3 separate regions of the Homo sapiens genome follow, and all the other regions are linked to region 1. Evidence: fine-mapped expression QTL. A gene starts in region 1. Each other region holds a variant in brackets. All regions are shown on one strand. Distances are from middle to middle.

Region 1 (8,182 bases):
TGTATCTGCATACAGAGAAGTATGTATCTCTGTATGCAGATACAGAGAAGTATCTGCAGTTGCTCACACTTCTTGTTGCACAGAGATGAACATATCAGGTATTATAGAGATTCAGTTACAGGGGATTAATAAACAAGCTGCTTGGTTAAAACAGCTTGATCTTTTATCTAGCTCTTTCTTTGATCTATTTGATTTTAGTTAGTTTAGTTCATGTTGACCCTGGCTAAGGGGCATACTCCAAAGTCTTGGTATTATCCTCTTGGTAATCTTAATAGTAGTCTCCTATGTGCACTAAGGACTTTCAAAAGTTTTAAATGTTTACATACAATCATCCATAAAATGTCCATAAAATTTAAATAAATAAAAATTCCAACATAATAAAAAAAAAGTATCCTCTACTCTAACGCTTACCAGAAAATAACCTAAAGTCCTTATTCGCACCTTACAAAACCCACTGTTGTACTATTTCCCAATGGGATTTGCGACCAGATAAGTACATTTACAATGGTCAGAAAGTAATGTCAATGTCTAGGATTTTGGTCAACCTCTCTATTTTGGTCAAGTTGAGAGGTTGAACAAAAGGGGAGAAATTGTTAAATTGAGTTTAGCCTAAAGTTGCCTCCTTATAAGTTCAGCCTAAAGGTTTCTCTGTACACAGTAAATTGTAACCTAACTGGATGTATAAATGGTCTATAACCTATTATAACAATCGCTGAGTTTTGGCTAATTACAGGAGGCCAACTGTTCAAATAATACACTCAACCAATCAAGCTGTTTTTATATCTCACTTCTGTTTTCCGTACATCACTGTCCTTTTTCTGTCCATAAATCTTCTTCCACCATGCAACAGTGTTGGAGTCTCTCTGAACATATTCTGGTTCGGGGTGGCTACCTGATTGACAAATCTTTTTTTTGCAAAATTAAACTCTTATATTTAATTTGTCTAAAGTTTTCTTTTAACACTATCCTTCTTTTATATTTTGGTCTCTTTATGACATTACTATTTAGCGCTGCTTGATACTTCTATTTTTTTTCCAGACAGGGTCTCATCTGTCACCCAGGCTAGAGTGGCATTATCATGGCTCACTGCAAGCCTTGACCTCCTGGTCTCAAGTGATCCTCCCACCTCAGCCTCTGGAGTAGCTGGGACCACAGGTGCAGGTCACCATGTCTGGCTAATTAAAAAAATTTTTTTGGCCAGGAGCGGTGGCTCATGCCTGTAATTCCAGCACTTTGGGAGGCTGAGGCAGGCAGATCACGAGGTCAGGAGATCGAGACCATCCTGGCTAACACAGTGAAACCCTGTCTCTATTAAAAATACAAAAAATTAGCCTGGTGTGGTGGCGGCCGTCTGTAGTCCCAGCTACTCGGGAGGCTGAGGCAGAAGAATGGTGCGAACCCCGGAGGCGCAGCTTGCAGTGAGCTGAGATCGCACCACTGCACTCCAGCCTGGGCAACAAAGCAAGACTCTGTCTCAAAAAAAATTTTTCTTTTGTAGAGGCAGGGGTCTCGCTCTGTTGCCCATGCTGGTCTCAAATTCCTAGCCTCAAGAGATCCTCCCCTCTTGGTCTCCCAAAATGTTGGGATTACAGTTGTGAGCAACCATGACCAGCCAACACTTTTATTTCTATCCTCCAGAACTCTAATTTTTTTTTTGTTTTTTGTTTTTCGTTGTTGTTGTTTGTTTTTCTAAGGACAGGGTCTCATCTTGTCATCCGGGCTAGGGTGCAGTGGCACAATCATAGCTTACTGTAGCCTCAAACTCCCAGGCTCAAGTGATCCTCCTGCCTCAGTCTCTCTCAAGTAGCTAGGACTACAGGAGCGTGCCATCATGCTCAACTAATTTTTTTTTTCTTGTAGAAGCGGGATCTTGCCATGTTGCCCAGGCTAGTCTCCCAATTGCTGGCCTTAAGCCATCCTCCCAAGCTTTAAGTCTTGGTCTCCCAAAGCGCTGGGATCATAGGCCTGAGACACTGCCCAGCCTGAGGCTCAATTTCTAAATATTTGACCCAGTACTTCCTTAGGGCACAGCCTGATTGAAAAATTGATGGTAGCTTGTACTTTTACACTCTCTCCAAAAACCAGAGAATTATCTTCCCCCAATTCCATTTCTCCAAATTTTCCAACAACTAATAGTAGGCCTGGCTAATCTGGTTATAGACTAGGTTATGCAAGTGAGGTGAGATCATGGAATGAAGACATATCTGAGACCCCCAATGAGACCAATGTTTCCCTTGACTATCCAATTGTTTGTGCAGATTTATTTGTAATAGTGGAATGGAGCTTCCTGAACTGATGGCCAATCTAATGTTTTCGCCTGGAATCAGAGAAATCTGGATTAGTCAAATAGCCCCGGTTTACCTGCTTACTGTGTGACCTTGCACTGTGTAATCTTTACACATTTTCACCTGAATTACCTCATCTCTAAAGTATGGCTTTATCAAATGAAATGTTTGCAAAAATGTTGTGTAAAGAGAAAAACATTCTCCAAGTTAATTTGTGGTTTTTTTTTTTGGAGACCGAGTGTTGCTCTGTCTTCTCCCGGGTTCAAGCCTTACTCCCGCCTCAGCCTCCTGAGTAGCTGGGATTACATGGGCGCGCCACCACATCCAGCTAATTTTTGTTATTTTTGGTAGAGACGGGGTTTCACCATGTTGGCCGGGATGGTCTCCTGACCTCAACTAATTCACCCGCCTCGGCCTCCCGAAGTGCTGGGATTACAGGCGTGAGCCTGTAAGTTAGTATCTAAATCACACAGGCGTTGAGACTATTTTTTTCTGGCTCAGTGCCACTGCTTTATTAGGCTGACATTTTAATCTATGTATTTTTGCACTTAAACTGGCAAGTTGGGGCGGGGCGCTCAGCATTTGGGTCTTATTCTTAGGCAGTAAGTTCGATGCAGGGCGAAGCCCGGGCCTTGACGTTCTCTTCAGCAAGGATTCCGCCCGTCAAGCGCCAGCAGCCGCTCCTAAGGAACTCTGATCCGCACACTGGCTCTGTAAGTCAGCCTCTGGCTCCTGCTTTCTATTTCATCTCTTCCGGTAAAAAGATTTCTGTCTTTTGGCCGCAGTGGCGCGTGCCCACGCTAGGTCGCTGAGGAAGACCCTTCGGGCCTTCTGAGCAGCGTAGCTGTTACTGTGGCACGTCCTAATGGTTCGGTCCAACTTCAGGAGACCGCCTGCCCTTAGGATGACCAACAGCTAGTTCAACTCAGGATAGCCAAGCTGCTCTCGGCAATGCAACCAATAGGGGAAGTCTTTCCAGAGCTCTTTCTCAGGAGCGTTGATTGGCTTATTCTCACGCCAATCAAGGTTTTCTGCACAACTGGCTTTTCTGTCACCAGATGGGGTGCAAACCGCTCACTCCCTCGGTAGAGAGGGCATAAAGCAGAGACGACCGGGAAATACCACAGAGGAGCAAATCACCTCCGGAAGTGGCGTTTTGGGTCGCTTTCTACCATGCAGTCCAATGAACTCTTTCTTTTGGCAACAAATTCCGTCTTCGAGCCCGCCCAAGGTGAAGAACATTTTGATTGGTTGTTTAGTCGGGGGACACAGAGACTCACGGGAGCTTCGTCCAAGCCCTTGCAGGTATTGCTCAGTTGGCCTGTCAATCATCTCGCTCGCTAGAAGGGGCGGAAACTGGCAGCCCTTTTGGCACCGCCTCTTCCTGGGCTGCTGTGCGGGGACGCAGCGAGGCCACCCCGGCTGGGAACAGCCGCGTGGGCGGGGCCGCATTGCACTCTCTGGACAGTTCCTGGGCCGCGAGGCGCGGGGAGTGGCCCTAAGCGCGGGGCTGTACGGGGAGGGCCGAGGCGTGGGGCGAACGCCGGGGCGGGGTCGGGGCGGGGCCGGGGGAGGCGGAAGCGGCGCGTGAACCTAAGTCGGAGTCGCGTTGAAGCCAGCGTCCGGCCGGCAGAGCGGCGTCGGCGGGGTTGGCCGGGGCGGTGTGGCGCTAGAGCCTGGGCGGGCCGGGGGCAAGGAGTCAAGGCTTGGGGGCGGGTGACGGGCGGGCGGAGGGCTTGCCCCCGTGTGGTCCTCGGAGCGGCCCGAGGTCCAGCCTCCCAGCGGTCCCGGAGGAGGATGCGACCGGGGGGCCCCGGGCGGGGCGGTCGGCGGCGGCTGCAGCGCTAGCGGCGCGGGGGCTGGGCGGCGGCGCCGGCATGAGGCGCAGGGCCGGTGTCCGCGGGAGGGTGGCGCTGCCGGCGGCCCGGCCGCTCCCGCTGCAATTGCTCGCTGGGCTCGTCGTGCCCTGCCAGTGGGGCCCCCGCAGCTCTCGTCCCGGCCGCCGCTGGTGACCACTCGCCGCCCCTCCGGAGGCTTCACCCGCGCCCTCCCCCAGGACGCGCCAGCGGAGCTCCGGCTCCTTCGCCCTGGACGCGGAGGCCGCGGTGTGCGGGGCGACGGCGAGGCCGGAAGATGGCCTGGGTGCTCAAGATGGACGAGGTGATCGAGTCCGGGCTGGTGCACGACTTCGACGCCAGCCTCTCGGGCATCGGGCAGGAACTGGGCGCCGGCGCTTACAGCATGAGGTACTGGGCTCCCTGGGCGGGGAGAAGCCTCTGTCTCCTTGGGGAAGGCCTGCGCAGCCCTGAGTCTCTGCCAGATGCGGCTGCTCCCAGAGGTGCGCGGGCCTCCTGGGCTGCGGGGTCGGAGTCCTGCCGCGTGGCGGTCGGGGGCCATGGAACCCCAAAGGCCTCTGCTCGCCCTGGTGACGGGCGGGTGGGGGAGGATGGCCCCGCAAGCGTCGGCCTCGGACCGCTCCTGAGTGCTTCATATTTGCTGTAAAACACGCCCAGCTATTAGGATGGCTTGGGTTGGTGGGGGAAGGGGCTTCTTTTCCTTATAAGTGATTTACAAGTCCCATTGGAGCTAGAATACACTGTACGAAAAGGCAGCACTTATATTGGGAGAATACTGTCTAGCGTTTTGGGATCAGTTCCTACTTTGTTGTCCTACATTATGATCTTTTCTGGCTGCAGATTTTAATCACTTGATGTTAGTAAATTATAATTGAAAGAGCAGCGGTGGGAGTAGCACTGTGACTTCGTTTTGTTCTTTTGATTGTCTCAAAGTGAAGTTTCTCATTTTGGAGACTACCCTCTCAGGCTGTTTCCTCTTGAGGGTTTTAAGATGCAGTGATTGCACCACAAATAATTGTTTAGTCTCTGCTGTCTGTACCAGCAGTCATTCATTTTAATATGGAGAGATTGAAACAGATCTGAGCTTAGTCTCCGCCCTTTATCCTTTTTAACTGTTAGGAATTTGGAAACTCTGTATTTTTTTAGTGGCTTTATTGAAATATAGTTTACCATAGCGTTGACTTGACTAATAAAGTCTAAAAATCAGTGGTTTGGCAGCTTTTCAATAATGTGAATTAAGTGTAGCTTTCTGTTCTTTAGAAAATGTCTGATGTTTTGGAAGTGCTCTACAGTTTCCCAGTAGCATTCATACATCTTACTGCAGCTCTAGAGGAGGACTTCTGGGTTAAAGCTGGCCTGGAATCTTGGTGGCTGCTCCTTGAAGTAATTGGGTCTTTAAATCTTAAGGAGAAATTCTGAGCCATAAAGAACTCTCAGAAAGGTTGGAGACATTTCTTGGAGTGTGGAAGTGAGTAGTGGAAGGCATATTAAACCTGGAGTTCCCCAGCGTCTGGCTCTGATTTGGTCTCTGTTGGGCTTCCTGAACTTGGCACCTCTTCTCTCTGCAGTTGTATAACTTAAGGCCTGTAGATGAGTTGGCTTATTTTCTAAAACAGCTGTTTCAGTTGTTGAGGAAATTGAGCTACTGAAAGTCATGGAGTCACCCCAGAGGGGAGTATTAGAGGCAGTGCTTCTCTAGTGAAAACGCACTCCTCTAGTGCCATTCTGCTCCTTAGCTCTCTACTGGAAACACGAGGCTTATAGTCAAGGCAAAGGAGGCACGTGAAGCAAGTTCAATATGTGTCTCTCCTCAGTTGCTTCTCTTTTATGGTAAAATGAAAGTTTGCTGCTGAAAAGTTTACTTATTGATAGCTATTTTGAGCTTTTACTTTTTTCTAGGGTTTTATTTGACCTGTACTTTGATTTAGTGATTCAGCCAACTTATTAATGTAATAACTTCTGTGTATGGTTTATTTCCATGAAAAGGAAGTACAATCTTGATGATTTTAAACCTTTCCCTGACCATGTATTTTTAAAGTAATGTGTGAGATCTTTGTAATTCTGTGTAACCTACAGTACTCTTTACAGGGATAATTTTCCCTTGAATTCTTTTTTGGTTGTGTCATTTAATCTAAATTTTCAAAGAAGTTTGAAGGTAATTACCATTTTTAAGAAGGTTTTTTTTTCGTATTTAATTGAGTCCTCAAAAACTAAGAGATGAGAGTGCTTGCCTCTTGCAAATTCAAGGCCCTTTGTTTGAAATTCTCAAACTAAGGAAATTCCAAAATTGACTCGATAAGGAGAAAATCTGAAGAAGGCGTTAGCTGCTGCAGGCCTCCCTGGACTGCAGTTGTACTTTCCATGCCTGGCCCTGGAGCCCTGAGAGGGTTGGAGTGCCTATGAATGGCCAGCTTGAGCATTCAGTCACTTCCTCTGGCATCCAGTGGGAAGGAAAGCTTATCTTTCAAAGTTCAAGAAGTAAACTTGAAGAAATTACTGGAAAAATGACTTCTTGATACAAATTGATTTTGTAGGCAGCTTTCTATTTTTCTTTCAAAATGAAACATGCTTACTGTATTTGCTTTTTGGATGGCTTAAAACAAGAGGTATTTCTTAAAAGACTTCTCTTAGGGAATGGTTTCCTCATCTTTTGGGAGGATAGTTTGAAAGGAAGAAATGGCTTCTGTCAGTGGTCTGACTTAAAATTAGGCAGGTGTGATGTTTGGTATGCTTGTAGACCTAGCTACGTGGGAGATTGCTTGAGCCCAGAGGTTCAGGGGTGTAGTGTGTGCTATGATTGCACCTGTTAATAGCCACTGCATTCCAGCCTGGGCAAGAATGAGACCCCCTTCTCTTTTGTTGTTTCCCCCCACCCCTTTCTCTTAAAACAGTAGGAAAAATATGTTTGTGTAAAATAATGTAGGCTGGTAATATTGGGAATATATTGGGGCTAATTACTAACATTACCTTTGCTTCTCTTTTTCTTTTGGCTCTGGTTCTCATGTGTTCTGTGTGTGCTGTTGTATTATACTTTTTTGTTGTTGTTTTTGTTTAGTCTTTTTTGGTGGTTATATTTGGATGTGAGATGTGAACTGCAGCAGATTCTATTTGAAATGAGGCAGGTCATAAATGTTTTTAAAAATCTTGGTTACAGTAACAGGATTTTAGAGATGGATAGAGACCTTCCTTAGAAACCTTTTAGAGTCTAGACCACTCCTTTTCTTATACTGTAAATGCATTATCTGAGGGTCATAGATGTTAAAGTGATTGGCTTAAACAGATGAAGGCTGATTTTTCCCCCACACAGAGTGAAGACTGAAACTCATGGTAACTTGAAATCTGGGTCATTCTCGTTTTGTGAAGTATGGAGTAGATAACCAAATGACTTTAAAAAATAATACTCATTAAAACTCAAAGAGGGTCTTTGGACCACCTGGTAATTTTCTTTCCATCTCACTGTATGAAATTTATCATCTGTAGCCAAGTTAATTTTTAGGATTTGGGGGCTCAATATTGAAATATTTTTGAAGGTTATAGGAAGTAATGGCTTGTATAGCTTACTCTTTTAAAAATTTTGATATTAAATTATTACTTTAAAAAAGGTATTGTCTGAGCCCTGTTTGTTAAACTTCGCTGTGGTATAAATCTCTTGAAACAAAAGATATACATTATGTATTTTGAAATGGGAGGTACATCCATAGTTTACAAATAATTTGCTAAATCAAAACTGCTTTGAGCTAATGACAGATTTCCTATGTTGATTGAAAGGTAAAATGTTTATTTAAGAAATCTATTGTACAACAAGGTTACTGTAGTTAATGATACAATGTATTCTTGAAAAATGCAAAGGGTGGATGTTAATGTTCTCACCACAGTGATAACTGAGGTAATACGTTTGTTAATTGGTTGAATTTAAACATTGGACAGTGTATATATGTCAAAACATCGTGTTGCACATGGTAATGTACACTATTATCTGTCACTTTTTAAAAAGTTAAAAAAAATTAATGTTATAGATCCTGTAAGGTAACAGAATTTCAA
Region 2 (8,182 bases), 290 kb after region 1:
GAATGTTGGGTGAAAATTTATGCACACAAAATCTTTGAAGTTCAACCCTATAGGATGCAAGACCATGAGATTCTGTCCCATATGCTCCAACGGGGGAGGGAGTATTTATCCTGTTCACCAGTGATCCCAAACTCTAGCACATAGTCAGCACTCAGTGAGGTCTGTTGAATGAAGGAGTGGGTCAGTGCAGGTTTTGAAATGAGGATATAACAGGGAATGTGAAGGGCCTGACTGAGCCCTGGGAGCCTGTATGTGAATTCTACAAGGCTCATTAGAATGGTCCAGCCATCTGATATGTTTTTTGTGTGAGGTTTTATGAACAGGACACAATGGGGTGTGATTGGGCTGTCCTTTTCTAAGCATAAAACACGCATGCATTTGATATTTGTCAGTGATGTTTGCTCTTCATCCACTGTTTCCCTTTTCTGACTGAGGACACATGTAAAGTGAATGGGCTTACATGTCAGGAGCAGATCAGAAAAGATTGTTAACTTTTATTTATAACTCTGTCAGTCATTAAATAAGCAAGATACAGAGTCTTATTCTCTAACAGCCTTTAGAAATAAGCCAGATACCCACTAATCTAGTTTCAGAGCCCAGGAATGCACCACATGACACCTCAGCATTCCATCTAGACCTTGGCTCTGGAGCTCTGTGCATTTTGTTCTTCCGAAGTTGAAAGTTAAGTGGGAGAAGCAGTCTGTTTTAATAATTTAAGTGTATCTTCCAGTAGGACTTGGCTTTCAAAGACCATTGAGAGAGGGGAAGGTCAAAGGGCTGCTGCTGTCTTCTGAGGACACCAGCTTCTTGAGCTTTCCTGACCAGTTGATTCCCCTCTCATCGGGCTGTCCTTACATTCTGGTCTCCTAGTTGTGGGGCTCTATTGCTTCTTATTCAGTTGAATTCAGAATACTTTACAGCATCATCTCATGACTTGGAAGTTTTACAGAGAGCAAATCAGTGTTTTAAAAGATGCATTTGGGGGCCGGGCGCGGTGACTCATGCCTGTAATCCCAGCACTTTGGGAGGCCGAGATGGGCGGATCACAAGGTCAGGAATTTGACACCAGCCTGGCCAACATGGTGAAACCCTGTCTCTACTGAAAATACCAAAATTAGCTGGGTGTGGTGGTGTGCACCTGTAATCCTAGCTACTCAGGAGGCCGAGGCAGGAGAATCGCTTGAACCCGGGAGGCGGAGGTTGCAGTGAGCCTAGATTGCACCATTGCACTCTAGCCTAGGAGACAGAGCGAGACTCTCTCTCAAAAAAAAAAAAAGATGCATTTTTGAACTTAATTATAAAATACATACGAATCATAAGGCAACAAACCAATGAATTATCAAGAATAAACACTGATATTTAGGCCTTGACACAGGTGAAGAAATCGAATATTGCCAGCACCCTAAAAGTCCTGTTTGTACCATACCCAGTCATCACCCCTTCTCTCCTACCCAAGTGTAACTACCATCCTGAGTTCCGACATCCATAGATTAATTCTGCCTGTTTTTAAACTTTATATAAATAGAATCAACACAGAGTGTGCACTTTTGTGCCTGGCTCAACATTATGGCCATGCAATTCATCTATTTTGTTGTGGGAAGCAGTGGTTGGTTCATGTTTATTGATGTACAGATTTGCATTGAGTATACCATAACTGATGTACCAGTTAATGGACATTTGAATTGCTTCCAGTTTTTTACTATTATGAACATTCTTAGGCGTGTCTTTTGGTACCCATATGCACACATTACTGTTAAGTGTATATATTTAGGAGTGGAATTGCTGTGTCATGGAGCATCCATATGTTCAATTTTAGTAGAGATGCCCAGTTTTCCATCGTGGTTGTTCCAGTTCACACTCCCACTAACAGTGCTGTATATCCTAGTTAACATTTGATATTGTCGGTCTGTTTAATTTTAGCCATTCTGGTGCTATGCAGTGGTATCTCATTATGACTATAATTAACATTTCTCTCTTACTAGTGAGGTTGAGCATCTTTCCACATGTTTAATGACTAATCTGATATCTTTCTGGTGATGTCCCAAGTCAACTATCTTGCCAATTTTTCTATGGTTTGTCTGTCTACTTAGTATAGATTTGTGGGAGTCCTTTTTAAATTCTGGATACAAGCCCTTTGGAGGTCATATGTGTTGCAGATAGCTTCTCTAACTCTGCCTTGCATTTTAACTCTCTTTGTGGTAGCTTTTAATGAACAGAGGATCTTCATTTTAATGTAATCCAGTTATCTGTCCTTGTGCCAATACCACAGCCTTAAAAGGTAATGCAGTTTTATAGTAAATCTTGAAATGTTTTGCATATGTCTTCCGGCTTTTTCTTTTTCAATATCGCCTTGTCTATTCTTACATTGCATTTCCATAAACTTCCATCCATTGCATTTCCATAAACTTTAACATTCAGTTAATGTCTGAGATTTTTATTGGAATTGTATTAGATCTGTATAGATCGATTTGGACAGAATTGCCAACTTAATGATCTTGAGCCTTCTACTACATGATCATGGTCTATTCCTCCATTCATTTAAGTCTTCTTTAATTTTGCTTAGCAATGTCTTATATCATTCCATGTAGAAGTCTTGAACATCTTTTGTTAGATTTATTCCTATGTGTTTGGTTTTTTTAATGTTATTGTAAATAGCATCCTTTTAAATTTTAATTTTCTGTTTATTGACAATATTTAGAAATACAATTGATGTTTATATTTACTGTAGACCTAGTATCCCTAATAAACTCACATGTTTTTTGTTGTTGTTGTTTTTGAGTTGTTGTTTTTGTTGTTGTTGTTTTTGAGTCTCACTCTGTCACCCAGGCTGGAGTGCAGTGGTACGATGTTGGCTCACTGCAACGTCCGCCTTCCGGGTTCAAGCGATTCTCATGTCTCATCCTCCTGAGTAGCTGGGATTACAGGCATATGCCACCATGCCTGGCTATTTTTTTGTATTTTATTAGAGATGGGCATTCGCCATGTTGGCCAGGCTGGTCTCGAACTCCTGGCTTCAAGTGATCCACCTGCCTAGGCCTCCCAAAGTGCTGGGATTACAAGTGTGAGCCACCATGCCCGGCCTAAGCTCAGATGTTAAATTTTAGTTACTTGTAATATTCATATGTAGATTATTTGGGTTTATCTATGATACACAGTCATATCATCTGTGAATAATAACAGTATTATTTATTCTGTCCCAGCCTTTATGCTTTTAATTTCCTTTTCTTATGTTCTATACTGGCTCTGTGCCTTTGGAGCTAATGAGGTTTTTTCCCTCTTTTCTTCCAGATGAGGCTGAGGCACACATTGACTATGAAGATAACTTCCCTGATGACAGATCTGTGTCATTCAGAGAGCTCATGGAGGATTCCCGGACAGAGGCAGATGAGGACAGGGGTCAGGGAGACTCCTCTGAGGAGGCTCCAAAACAGGACCGTCTGGTCTCCATTTCTGTGGGGAGAGAAAACATAGCCCGGGATAAAGTCTTTGTGCCAACCACAGGCTTGCCTGGTGCTGGGAGCAGTGTCCCCGCAGATTCACCAGGATCACGGCTGCTCCAGAAGCACTTGTTCTGGTTTCCTGCTGAGGCTTTCCACAAGCCTGGGTTGGAAAAGGAGGTGGATGATGACACCAAAAAGCAGTTTTCTGCTGGAGACAACCACAGTGGTGTAAAATTGGTCCCAGGTGAACCTGAAACCAAGGTGATCTACGGCAACACTGATGGTCCCTCGGGGCCATTTGTGGGCAAGAATGACAGCAAGGCAGGAGATCCAGTGGTGAGCAGCAGTGATGAGTCCTGGTTAGATGGCTACCCTGTGACAGAGGGGGCTTGGAGGAAGACAGAGGCAGAAGAGGAAGAAGATGGGGACAGAGGGGATGGGTCAGTAGGGCTGGATGAAAACGTCCTAGTTACTCCTGATCAGCCCATTCTTGTGGAAGTTAAGAAGCCCAAGAGTAGCACCCTCACACCAAGCGAGGGCATGACCCATAGTTCAGTTCTTCCATCTCAAATGCTAGATGTGGAAGCTTTGGCGCTCAGACCCGTGAATGCTTCCGAGACTGAGGGCATTGGGGATGGTGACTTGACGAAGTACCAGTCAACTCTACCCTGGAGATTCATCACAGAGGAATCTCCCATGGCCACCCTGTCCTATGAGCTCACCAGCTCCACCCTGGAGATATTAACAGTGAACACTGTCAAGCAGACACCTAACCACATCCCCTCAACGATCATGGCAACCACCCAGCCTCCAGTAGAAACCACTGTTCCTGAGATCCAGGATAGCTTCCCATACCTGCTGTCTGAAGACTTCTTTGGACAGGAAGGCCCCGGGCCAGGTGCAAGTGAGGAGCTTCATCCCACCTTGGAGTCGTGTGTGGGGGACGGATGTCCTGGCCTCAGCAGAGGCCCTGTGATCGCCACCATTGTCACCGTCCTGTGCCTACTGCTGCTCCTGGCAGGTGTGGGGATGGTGTGGGGCTACCGCAAGTGCCAGCACAAGAGCTCTGTGTACAAGCTGAATGTTGGCCAGCGGCAGGCTCGGCACTACCACCAGCAGATCGAGATGGAGAAGGTCTAGGCACCTTTGGAGTGGGTTCTCCCAAAGCCACTTGGGAGGAAAATAACTGTGACACATCACACGATAATTCACTAGAGCATGACGCAGGTGGACTG[A/G]GGCTCATCATTTTTTCCTCAGCCCTTTGTTTTATAGGCTGAGAAGTGTCTCTGGAGCACCTGGGAGGGCAGGGAGGCTTTGGTGACATCATCACTCATGTCAATGTCTCCTCCACCATCTGCCCTGGAATTGACTACACTAATCCCAGACCTGTGCTTGGGCCCTGTTTCCAGTGTGAGGTCAAAAATCGCCTCTTCCTTCATCACAGTATTATCTTTTTTTTTTTGAGACAGAGTCTCATGCTGTTGCCCAGGCTGGAGTGCAGTGTCCCGATCTGAGCTCACTGCAACCTCTGCCTCCCAAGTTCAAGCAATTCTCCTGCCTCAGCCTCCCAAGTAGGTGGGATTACAGGCATGCACCACCATGCCCAGCTAATTTTTTTATATTTTTAGTAGAGATGGAGTTTCACCATGTTGGCCAGGCTGGTCAAGAACTCCTGACCTCAAGTGATCTGCCCTCCTTAGCCTCCCAAAGTGCTAGGATTCCAGGTGTGAGCCACATCACAGTATTACCTTTTTGAAGAAAGAAAATCACCAGCTTCATGCCCTGAAATTTTATAAATAGTCATGATAAACCAAGTGTATGAGAGCAGTATTATCTAGGACATGGATATTGAATTATTGGGAGAGGAATATGGAAGAATAATGGGTTGTTTCCTTTTAATGTTGTGATGTTGCTGAGGGCAGATGAACCAAGAGCCAGGACACAGTCTAGAAGCTTTGAGGTTTCTTTTTTCATTGTTTCTTGAAATTAGAATTTAAGACTGACATTTTGTTGGGGGAGTTGAGGAGTGAAGAAACACACATCCCCCTCTGTTCCCTCCATTCTGTGGGACAGTCTGTCATTTATTTTATTTTATTTTCAATATTTCATGGTTAAGGATTTGCCATTATTTTTTAAAAACAAAGTTAGCTTTGTACCAGTAAGTACCATTTCCTCTCAGAAGCAGTGGCCTAGTTGTCCTTGACCAGTCTGTGCCTAGGAATGTCTTGGAATTTTTGCCAGGACTAACAAAACTCAGTCCTTGGTTTCCTCTCTCAGGATTAACCATTTCTCTGAACTCCAGTAAGAGAGAATGACACGGGAGAAAAAAAAAAGAAATGTTTTCAGAGGGCCGAACACCAGGTTATCAAGTATGGGCACATACTTGATGGAGAAGCAGAAGAATCTGTGAAAGAATATGAAATGATCTGTGCTGATCTGTTCTCTAGTGTGGAAACTGGGAGCTCTGTGGAAACAGAATCCATCCTGTCTGTTGGGTAACCCATTTCGTAGCATCTAAATCATCTTAGGGTGGCTCAGCGAGGATGGTTTATGGCAGTGGTTCTCAAAGTGTGGTCCTCAGACCAGTAGCATCAGCGTCACCTGGGAATTTGTTGGAGATGCAAATTCTCTAGTCCCACCCTGGACTCAGGAAACAGGAACCCTGGGAGTAGGGCCCAGTTCTGTTTTTAACAAGCCCTCCAGGTGATTTTGATATGCACTCAAGTTTGAGAGCCTGTTGGTTTATAATAATCTCAAATGTGAACTTCGAGGCCAGCTGAAGCCCTAAAGGCACAGATGAGTATGTGGTGTGTGTTGTGTGGAAGTCAGGCATGGCTGTGTGCAGCTGAGGTGGCATTTGAAGCTGCCTAAATGCCACCTGCAATAGTCTCCTGTATGTTGGCACAGAAATGAAACATGTTATATTTTTCTAATATGAATCACCTTCTTAGAAATAGTTATCAGTGGTAAAAAGTGATGAATGCAACACATTTATTTTGAGACACCATAGCAGTCTAAGTGTTTTTGTGTGGTAGAGGGAAATCCTGATCTTTTTTATGATTGAAAAATTGTTGGTGGTGTTTTACCTAAGGAAAAAAAACATTCGCAACATGTTTTCTACCCTGCCACCTCTTTTCAGCAAGCTTTGGAAAAGTAATAGGCGAAGTAGCTGTAAAGAGAGGCAGCATAATCAAAGATCTTATTCCCCATAGTTGGGTAAAATAAAGCCTGAAGGTACCAACTAGAATACCTGTGCATCAGACGAAGTCAAGAACAATAGGAATAAAATGCTTTCTGCATGTAGCCAAAGCAAAACATAATAGAATAAAAGCCAGAGACTGTATATATTTATAAATTAGATCCTAATCTACTGCAAGATAACTTTTCTATTTTTAACTATATAAAATAACCTCTGTCTCAGCATTGGGACTGTGTTAGCAACTATTATTGTGGAATAACCCAGAACATTGGATTTATACCAACAAATAGGCAATATTAATACAGTGTATTAATAAATTTATTACAAATTATTAATACAGTGTATTAATAAATTTATTACAAATTATTAATACAGGTAAATGTTTTATTTGTAGACATGGACTGTGAAATAAACCCAACACATCAGTTTTTAAGTTCTTATTGGTGTGGTATCCTCTAAATTAATGTTATAGAATCTAAAAATTCATGTTGAAAGGGAATGATTAAAACAATGTAAATCTAAATTGTATGTCATGCATGTTTTGAGAATGGTGAATGTTTAATGCTCATGAAAATTGGGGGAGGGGGTTCTATTAACACAAAGCTTCTGAGATATTTAAAATAAATAATTATTGCCCCAACAGTTGCTGAATGTATTTTATTTCTAGGCTACTGCACCAAGGTTTAAAAAAAGAAAAAAATTCTCGCTGGGCACAGTGGCTCACACTGGTAATCCCAGCACTTTGGGAGGCTGAGGTAGGCAGATCACTTGAGGTCATGAGTTCGAGACCAGCCTGGCCAACATGGTGAAATCTTTTCTGTACTAAAAATACAAAAATTAGCCGGGCGTGATAGCATGCTTGTGGTACCAGCTACCCAGGAGGATCAGGCAGGAGAATTGCTTGAACCCGGGAGGCAGAGGTTGCAGTGAGCTGAGATCATGCCACTGCACTCCAGCGTGGGGGACAGAGCAAGGCTCCATTCAAAAAAAAAATCTCTAGTAATCTTGAAAATAATGTCTTAATACTTGCTATATCTAAGATCTAAGACTGCCCTTTCTAAACCTAACTCTCAGTTATGTTACCTCCTGCAGCAGGATTTTAGGGAAGTTGGTGGCACTCTTGCCCCCCCCTCCCTCCCTACTTCCCTCTTCCTTGCCCCGCCCCCCCCTACTTCCCTCTTCCTTGCCCCAACCAGAGACCACTTACTTCACTGCAACGAAACACCCGGGACCTCGCTATTCAAAGTGTGGCTCCTGCCCCAGCAGCACAGGCACTGCGAGCTTGTTAGAAGTACAGAATCTCAGGCCCTGCCCCAGGACTGCTGAATCAGGATCTGCATCTAACAGGATGCCCAGGTGGTGGGCATGAATGGTAAAGCTTGAGAAGCACTGGCCTAAGAGAGAACTGATTATCCCCTTTCTCCTAACTCACAGGACACTCAAAGGAGTAATTAGAGGGTTAGCTGAAGGGACTGTTCACAAAGGTGTGGGGAAAGTTAGGGGAACCATCAGGGGATGGTGGGGACCTGTTATGGAACCCAAC
Region 3 (8,182 bases), 25 kb after region 1:
CTGCCTGCCCTGACCTCCCAAAGTGCTAGGATTACAGGTGTGAGCCACTCCACTTGGCCAACTCTTGATTTTTCTGCCTCAAGTCAGCTCCTGGCTGTCTTTGAGGTCAGGAAATGGTGACTCTTCTTCAATTCCTTGATCAAAAATCAGGAGTAATCCTCAACTCTTCTTTCTGTTACACTTTACATCTAATACAGCAGAAAACTGAGGGATTTATACTGTTCTGATAGGTGAAAAATGATTTCAGTGTGGTTTTAATTTGCATTTCTCTAATGGAAGTTGTCTTTCAATATGTTTAAGAACTGTTGGCATTTCCTTTTGTGAACCCACATGTCCATTTCATTTGCTCATTTTTTTCTTCTAGGGATACTGGACATTTGTTAGCAATTTTTTTTTTTTTTTTTTTTTTTTGGAGACAGAGTTTCGTTCTTGTTGCCTGGGCTGTAGTGCAGCGGTGCAATCTCAGCTTACTGCAACCTCCGCCTCCCAGGTTCAAGCGATTCTTCTGCCTCAGCTTCCCAAGTAGCTGGGATTACAGGCATGCACCACCACGCCCAGCTAATTTTTGTATTTTTAGTAGAGATGAGGTTTCTCCATGTTGGTCAGGCTGGTCTCGAACTCCCAACCTCAGGTGATCTGCCCGCCTCGGGCTCCCAAAGTGCTGGGATTACAAGCGTGAGCCACTGCGCGCAGCCTAATTAAATACTTCTTATGGCCGGGTGCGGTGGCTCACGCCTGTAATCCCAGCATTTTGGGAGGCTGAGGCGGGTGAATCACCCGAGGTCAGGAGTTCAAGACTTGCCTGGCCAACATGGCGAAACCCTGTCTCTACTAAAAAATAATACAAAAATTAGCTGGGCGTGGTGGCGGGCACCTGTAATCCCAGGTACTCAGGAGTCCAAGGCAGGGAGAATTGCTTGAACCTGGGAGGTGGAGGTTGCAGTGAGCCGAGATTGCGCCACTGCATTCCAGCCTGGGCGACAGAACGAAGCTCCCTGTCAAAATAAATAAATAAATAAAAATTAATGTTTCTTATTGATCTGATAATCAGCATAAACCTTTTGTTGATTTTTATTTCCTAAATTCTTGTGAGGTTGAGTGTAATTTTAAACATAAATGGTGTATTTTTCAAAACTTTATATTCTTCATTTTGAAAATTATTTCTGTTTTCAGAATATAGATCCATTGTTAAATATAGTGCATATATCTTCTTCCAATCTGTGTCTTAGTTTAACTTTTTAAAAATGTCTCTTCCCATACAGGTGTTTTTTAGTGTTTCTCTGTCTGTTGAATGAATGTAAGCAACTTTTCTTTGTAACAGACTATATATATGCTGTTTTCCTTCACCAGCCTTGGAGTGATGTAGTTGTATTTTGATAACCCCTTGTTGAATTTTGACCCTATAATCTAGAATCCTTTGTATATTTTTCTGTAAGCCCCCTGGGAGTATGGACAAGGTGTTGGTAGTTATAAAGATTCTCAACTTCATGTGATATTATAAGCATTCTTTAATTTTTACTGATTTTCTGCATGCCAAATTATACTGTCATTTTTATTATTTAATAACAGATAATCCAGAAATCATTTTTTGTGGATTTGGAGTACATTATTAATTTTTTTACAGCAGCATTTTCCTAATTATCTAGATTGATGTGTGAATATCTGTGTTTTCTAATAAACACTAAAAGTGGAAACAACCCAAATATCCATCAGCTGATGAATGGATAAACAAAATTTGGTTTAGTCTTTACACAGTGGAATAGTATTAGGCAATAAAAAGGAATGAATATTATTTGGCAATAAAAAGGACTGATATATACTACATATGGGTGAACCTTGAAAACATTATGCTAAGTTTAAAAAGCAAGGCACAAATACCCACATATTGTATGATTCTGTTTATGAAAGTATCCAGAGTGGGCAAATCGTAGAGGCAGAAAGTGGATTGGTGATCGCTAGCAGTTGGCCAGGTGGGGGGTGGGGGAGGGATGGGAAGTGACTAATAGAGGTTTCTTCTTAGGATGATGCGAGTGTTCTAAAACTGGTAGTGGTGATGGTTGCACAACTCTGACTATACTGAAAACCAATGATTTACACACTTTTTAAAAATGTGAATTTTATGGTATGTAAACTATATCTCAGAAAAGCTGTTACAAAAATTAGTCTTAGGTAATGCAAGCATAATAAAAGTTTAGTGTAAGAGAGTGGCAGATGAAGATAAATTGACAGAGAAACTCTTGTCTCCTGTAATAATGTTAGAACAGAAGGTTGGTGTGATTTTCAGGGAAGAGAAGGATCAACCTGAATTTGCTTCCGTAGCAAATTAACAAACTATCATTGTGTAATGTATGTTCTGAGAAACATGCATTTTGAATTATGTTAAGCAAAGTGATGTTCTTTATAAGGATTGTTTTTTATACACAATTTCTTTAAATAGGTCAGTCATATGAAATTCGGATGCTGGATAATCGGAAAATGGGTGATATGCCTGAGATCAATGGAAAATTAGTAAAGGTAAGGACAGTCCATTTTAATTCCCAATGGATATTGCTGTGATTGAATGAGTTTTTGTTTAAAAAAAAATTAATTTCACTTCAATAATTGTTGTATTACAACTTTTTAACTTTATGAGCTATATTTTGTTTATTCACCTGTAAAATGGGAATTATAGCAGTTATTGGGTAGAGTAATTTTGAAAGACCCTTGGAAATCAAGGAGCAATAGAAAAGTTAGTTGTAGTTATGGGGTAAAAAACTCATCACCACAACAAAAACCTATAAGCCTCTCTAAAAGTAAAAGATAATATGGGGAAGAATGTCAATGTTGGCATAAAACTTTAAAAAATCCTTTACCTTGTAAAGTTTCATTTAAAAAATAGAAATCTCTGTTCACCCTACTCATGTATCTGAATGAAGAAGTCAGTCATCCTAGGTATAGGAGGCATAGCTGTTTTCCAGCTAACCTGTTCTTTTAGGATGTATCCTCAGAACCATCCCTGCCCCCTGGCCCCTCCTAGCCTGTATCCATCATACATCATGGCTAGTTATAAATTCCATAGCATTACAGGGCAGGGTTAATGAAAGAATCTTAATTGGGGAAAGGTAAAACCTCATGTGGCTAACTAAGTGTTAGCAAGAGACAAGTTCTCTTGATCCTTCCATCTTCCCACAGAGTGGCATGTCAGGGCCCAGGTGCTGCTGGGCCCTCAGTGTGGAGGGGCATTCTATTGGAAAGACCTGCCCTCTGTGGATCTGCCTTTTTAGTGGGTAA[G/T]CATGGGAAGGGCAGCCTTGTGGTGGGAATTGGATTCAGGCAATCTAAATTTGGTGTGTTAACTAATTTGGCATGTATGGGAAAGCCAGCTGCCCAGTACCTGGAGGGCACCTGGAAGGTTACTTAGGGATCAAATGATGGGTTACCAAAGGTGCTTTGGAACTTCTTGAATGTGCAGAACATATTCAGCAATGTGCTTTCTCTGATTGTTCTGTTTTTGTCTTTCTTTGTTCTGTGTTTTTTTTTTTGTTAATGTATCAGTGTAAAAGGGTTGGAAAGTTGTTTTAATTGTGAACTCCATAATAAAATTTAGTAGGATTTGATGGGCCCTATACTGAGGTCTTTAAAACTGGATCCAAAAATGTTAGAACAATTTTTTTAACTTTTTATTATGGTAAAATTTGAACATACCCAGAAGTAAAGAGAATGGTACAATGAATCCACATATATCCATCATATGGTGGTATATAATAAATATATCTGGTATATATCATGAGTTCTCATAAGTTCTCATGCCAACTTCAACATTCTCCACAATTTGCCAGACTTGTTTCATCTATTCCCCTTGTGCTTTTTTTGTGTATGCCGGATTATAGAATTTACTAATTTGTAATTTTAACTCAGTTCTTCATTCATGACCATTCAGTGTTCTGAGGAAAATATAACAAACTTTGACATCCAGACCAAATGCCAAAATTCAGTGTCCATCAAGGCATTGAAGAAAATCAATTCTGAAGCAATTGTCTTTGTCATTTATCAGTGGAGACAAGCTGGCTTTCCAGGGCAGTTCCCTGAATAGGTGGTAGGATTTAGAAATAATTAGTCTGATAGGTGATACCTAATGTTTAAAATATTTTGGCAAGCTGGTTAAAATACCTGTCAGATTAACTTGGGATGGCAGGGTAAAGTTGTATGACTGCTTTAAGTTCAACTTCCTTGTATTTACTTCCAAATTAAAACATGTAAAAACATTTAATATACAAAATTAATGCAAGCAAATAAATTAAGGGAAAAATGACACCTCATTATGACGTAATGAACTACTGTTAGTAGCAAAACCATTAACTTATAAATGCACAGTGAATGTTTTGCTGACATAACACTAGTATATTCCACCTAGACAAGGTTACTTATTCTGAAGGCATCAGTATCTAAATATTTAGCCCACTGATTGAAAAGGGTTCATTTTTAAAGCATTTTACATTGGCTTCATCTTCTGTTTGATAAGCCAGCTGTGTGATTTTTGGTGGATGTGCCAGGCATGCAGTTATATTCTGTAAGCTTGTCTGGGATTAAGAGCTACTGTCTGCTACTACCAAAGACTGCAGGATGAGTTTCTTGGAAATTACATCCTTTTTTTAGCTAGAGAATCCCTAAAATATGCTTCAAATTTCTAGAGTTTTATTTCCTGGCCCTAGGATCTTTGACTATACTACTTAAATTTGTGGGGGAACCTTGGGGATCAAGTGATAGGTTTGCGAAGGTGCTTTGGAACTTCTTGAATGTGCTGAACATATTTAGCAATGTGCTTTCTCTGATTGTTCTGTTTTCGTCTTTTTTTGTCCTATTTTTTTCTTTTAGTCTTATTGTTAGGGCCCCATCACATGTTGCTAGTTCTGAAAATGCAGTCAATCTCCTTTTAGGGAGAACTTTCAGATAACGAGATTTTCTCCCTGTTTCATATAAGAAGTTCCTTTCCTCTCTCCCGCCCTCCTCCCTCTCTTTCTTTTTCTTTCCCTTCCTCCCTTCCTTTTCATTCCTTTCTTTTTTCCTTTCCGTTCTTTTTTGGGTAGGGGTTTCTGGTAGAAACTGGAAAACCTGCTAGACAAATTCTAAAAGCTATATAATGCTAGAATTTTTCTTATATATCTTGTAATTTCCTAACTTTGGTCCTCCTTTTATCTTTAGTATTTTAGTCCAACCTTCTAGAATGGGGCTTAGTAAAGCTCTGAAGTCTAATACCTGTATTCTAATACTGTTTTCATCTGAATATGTGTAGTTAGTATGGTTCTTACTGAGTATGGAACAATTAGAACTGTGATATTTTCTGTGCTGTACTTTTTTCTGGAGACGAGCTGGCTAGCAGATGTGAACCACTGGCATTGGTGTCTTAGGGGCCACCACTAGCCTATGCACCATCACTATGAGAGCTTTGCTCTGGTCAGGTGATGGTGTGAAGTGGGTGCTGGGTAATTGCTTGGACAGGCCCTGCAGGTGTGGGTGCAGGTAAGGAAGATGGGAATAAAGCAGCCACTGAGCCCTATAAATGTCTCCCACATGGTACTCTTTATCTCAAAGAAAAAAATTGCTTTTAATTGGCTGCTGGGATTACAGGCATGAGCCCCACCGCACCTGGCCTAAGTTCACTTTTTCAAGGCAGCGGGCAGTGTTTCGGATTTTTGTTTTATGCCAGTTCTTTTTTTTCAAAACTCAAAGTTTTTTTTTTTTTTTTTTTGTGATGGAGTCTCGCTCTGTCACCTAGGCTGGAGTGCAGTGGTGCGAACTTGGCTCACTGCAAGCTCTGCCTCCCGGGTTCACACCATTCTTCTGCCTCAGCCTCCCAAGTAGCTGGTACTACAGGCGCCCACCACCATGCCTGGCTAATTTTTTGTATTTTTTGTAGAGATGGGGTTTCACCGTGTTAGCCAGGATGGTCCCAATCTCCCTGACCTCGTGATCCTCCCACCTCAGCCTCCCAAAGTGCTGGGATTACAGGTGTGAGCCACCGCACCCAGCCAGAAGACTCAATTGTTAACTGTTATTTTAAATTAACAAAGTTTTACCATTGTTTCTGGGTTTCTCTGTCTCCATCTTTTCATTTTTAATAACTCCTGTGTGCATCTGGTATTTTCTTTATAGGAATGTAATTCTTGCTCATTAATTTTAGTGGGAAGAACCTTAATTTTGAATTGCAATAACAAATCATTTTATAAAATCAATACCTAAGTTACCATTTTATTTATAATTTTAGTTTTTGAGTTATAATTCTTTGCACCAAATAATTGTACCGTAATCCAGGTATCCAAGGGCAAAAGAGTTCACTTACAGAATGTTTAAAACAGAATCTAGTTGTATGTGTTCTACTGCTACAGGTTAACACATAAGAAGTAGAAATGGTCCTGCATTTTAGCTGGAGCAGTTTAAAAGTACTCATTTTCCGCACTTATTCCACAGAGCATCATAAGGGTTGTATTCCATGACAGACGGCTACAATACACAGAGCATCAGCAACTTGAAGGATGGAAGTGGAATCGCCCAGGAGACAGACTTCTTGATTTAGGTACAGGCAGTGATCAAAAGACCATGGAGATGAGGGTATTGTTTAGCTATAGCCAGTAATGTGTTGTGTTGGCATCATGAATTACTTGTGTGGGGAAAGTTTTGGTGTTTGTGGATTTTGTGTCTTTTTTTTTTTTTTTTGAGACAGAGCCTTGCTCTCTCGCCCAGGATAAGTGCAGTGGCACAGTCTTGGCTCACTGCAACCTCTACCTCCCGTCTTCAAGTGATTTTCCTGCCTTAGCCTCCCAAGTAGCTAGGATTGCAGGTGCGCGCCACCATGCCCCTCTAGGATCTTGTGTCTTGAGAGTTGTTTTCTATATATACATACGCACACACATACATATATATGTATGTATGTATATACATTATTTTCTTTTTATTTTTTTCCCATCCTCGTATTATAAAGAACCGAGAGAGTTGTTTTATAGTTAAAACGTCAAGTAGCTTTTTGGTGCTAAACTAATGTGAACCTGGAATTTTATGATTTTGAAACCGTTTAATTGTAAACCATCTATCTTTTTTTTTTTTTTTTTTTTGAGACGGAGTTTCGCTCTGTTGCCCAGGCTGGAGTGCAGTGGCGCGATCTTGGCTCACTGCAACCTCCGCCTCCTGGGTTCAAGTGATTCTTGTGCCTCAGCCTTTTGAGTAGCTGGGACTACAGGCACGCGCCACTGCGTCTGGCTAATTTTTGTATTTTTAGTAGAGACGGGGTTTCACCATGTTCGCCAGGCTGGTCTCAAACTCCTGACCTCGGGTTATCCACCTGCCTTGGCCTCCCAAAGTGCTGGGATTACGTGAGCCACCACGCTCAGCCTTATCATATTCTTAAAAAAAATGAAATACAAACCATGGTAGGGGAAACGATGATATTCGTTTAGGGTGGGTTTCGATGTTGAAGAAGTTGATCATGGAGACCATTGAAAGACAGAGTTCAAAGCAGTTACAGTTATTTCATTAGAACATAATATAGTAAGTTGTAAGTTTTTTAAGTTATTTAAAGTGGATGTTTTTATGTAACTTCTTTTTAAAACATAGATATTCCAATGTCTGTGGGAATAATTGACACAAGGACGAATCCAAGCCAGTTAAATGCGGTTGAATTTCTGTGGGACCCAGCAAAACGCACCTCTGCTTTCATTCAGGTTTGGATTTTTACATTATTAGAAGCTTACTAACCTAGTTATTTAGGTCATGGTAGGATTGAATTTTTGATACAGTATCATTTCCTTTAAATGTCTATTTATAAACTATGTTGTAGTGTCTTTCTATATACATAGTTAGGTTTAATCTAGTAAGTTCACCCTATTTTAAACTAACATATATGAAGACATTCTATGATATGTAAAGCATTATTCAAATGTTATTTTTACCACTAGTAGTCCCAATAATGAAAATGTCTATTTTTCATGAGATGTATTTCTCTTGAACACAAGCTGCTATTTAAAAGGATACGATTGAAAAAAGATTGAGGTTTTAAAATTCCTTCTAGCATTATTTTTAAAACATTCTAATACTGAAAAATTCAAACCTCTACAAATAGGATAATAATGATGACTAATTGTCCATGTAACCATCACCTGGCTTTAGCAGTTTTTAGTAGTTTCCGCCCCCTTTTAGTTATTCTTGGAGCACT

What was found.
Region 2: its variant is fine-mapped to the expression of UBP1 in whole blood (TOPMed, PIP above 0.99).
Region 3: its variant is fine-mapped to the expression of UBP1 in whole blood (INTERVAL, PIP above 0.99).

What each region holds. Positions count from the first base shown.
Region 1 is chr3:33,436,085-33,444,266 of GRCh38, reverse strand. It overlaps UBP1 (upstream binding protein 1), which reads left to right and starts at 3,862. Exons shown (of 16, transcript NM_014517.5): 1 at 3,862-4,531. The coding sequence starts at 4,419. RefSeq lists enhancers at 2,884-3,173, 3,384-3,573, 3,905-4,404 and silencers at 3,724-3,883, 3,944-4,053, 4,104-4,423, 4,654-4,703, 4,623-4,857 and 1 more.
Region 2 is chr3:33,149,140-33,157,321 of GRCh38, reverse strand. It overlaps SUSD5 (sushi domain containing 5), which reads left to right. Exons shown (of 5, transcript NM_015551.2): 5 at 3,289-7,279. The coding sequence ends at 4,580. Among named protein-coding and RNA genes, the nearest start is that of CRTAP, 39 kb to the right of the region's middle. RefSeq lists an enhancer at 3,308-4,507. The variant A/G (reference allele first, on the strand shown) is at 4,676.
Region 3 is chr3:33,411,090-33,419,271 of GRCh38, reverse strand. It overlaps UBP1 (upstream binding protein 1), which reads left to right. Exons shown (of 16, transcript NM_014517.5): 3 at 2,438-2,514; 4 at 6,445-6,550; 5 at 7,585-7,691. It also overlaps a transcript of FBXL2 not described here and the pseudogene RNU7-110P. Among named protein-coding and RNA genes, the nearest start is that of UBP1, 25 kb to the left of the region's middle. The variant G/T (reference allele first, on the strand shown) is at 3,271.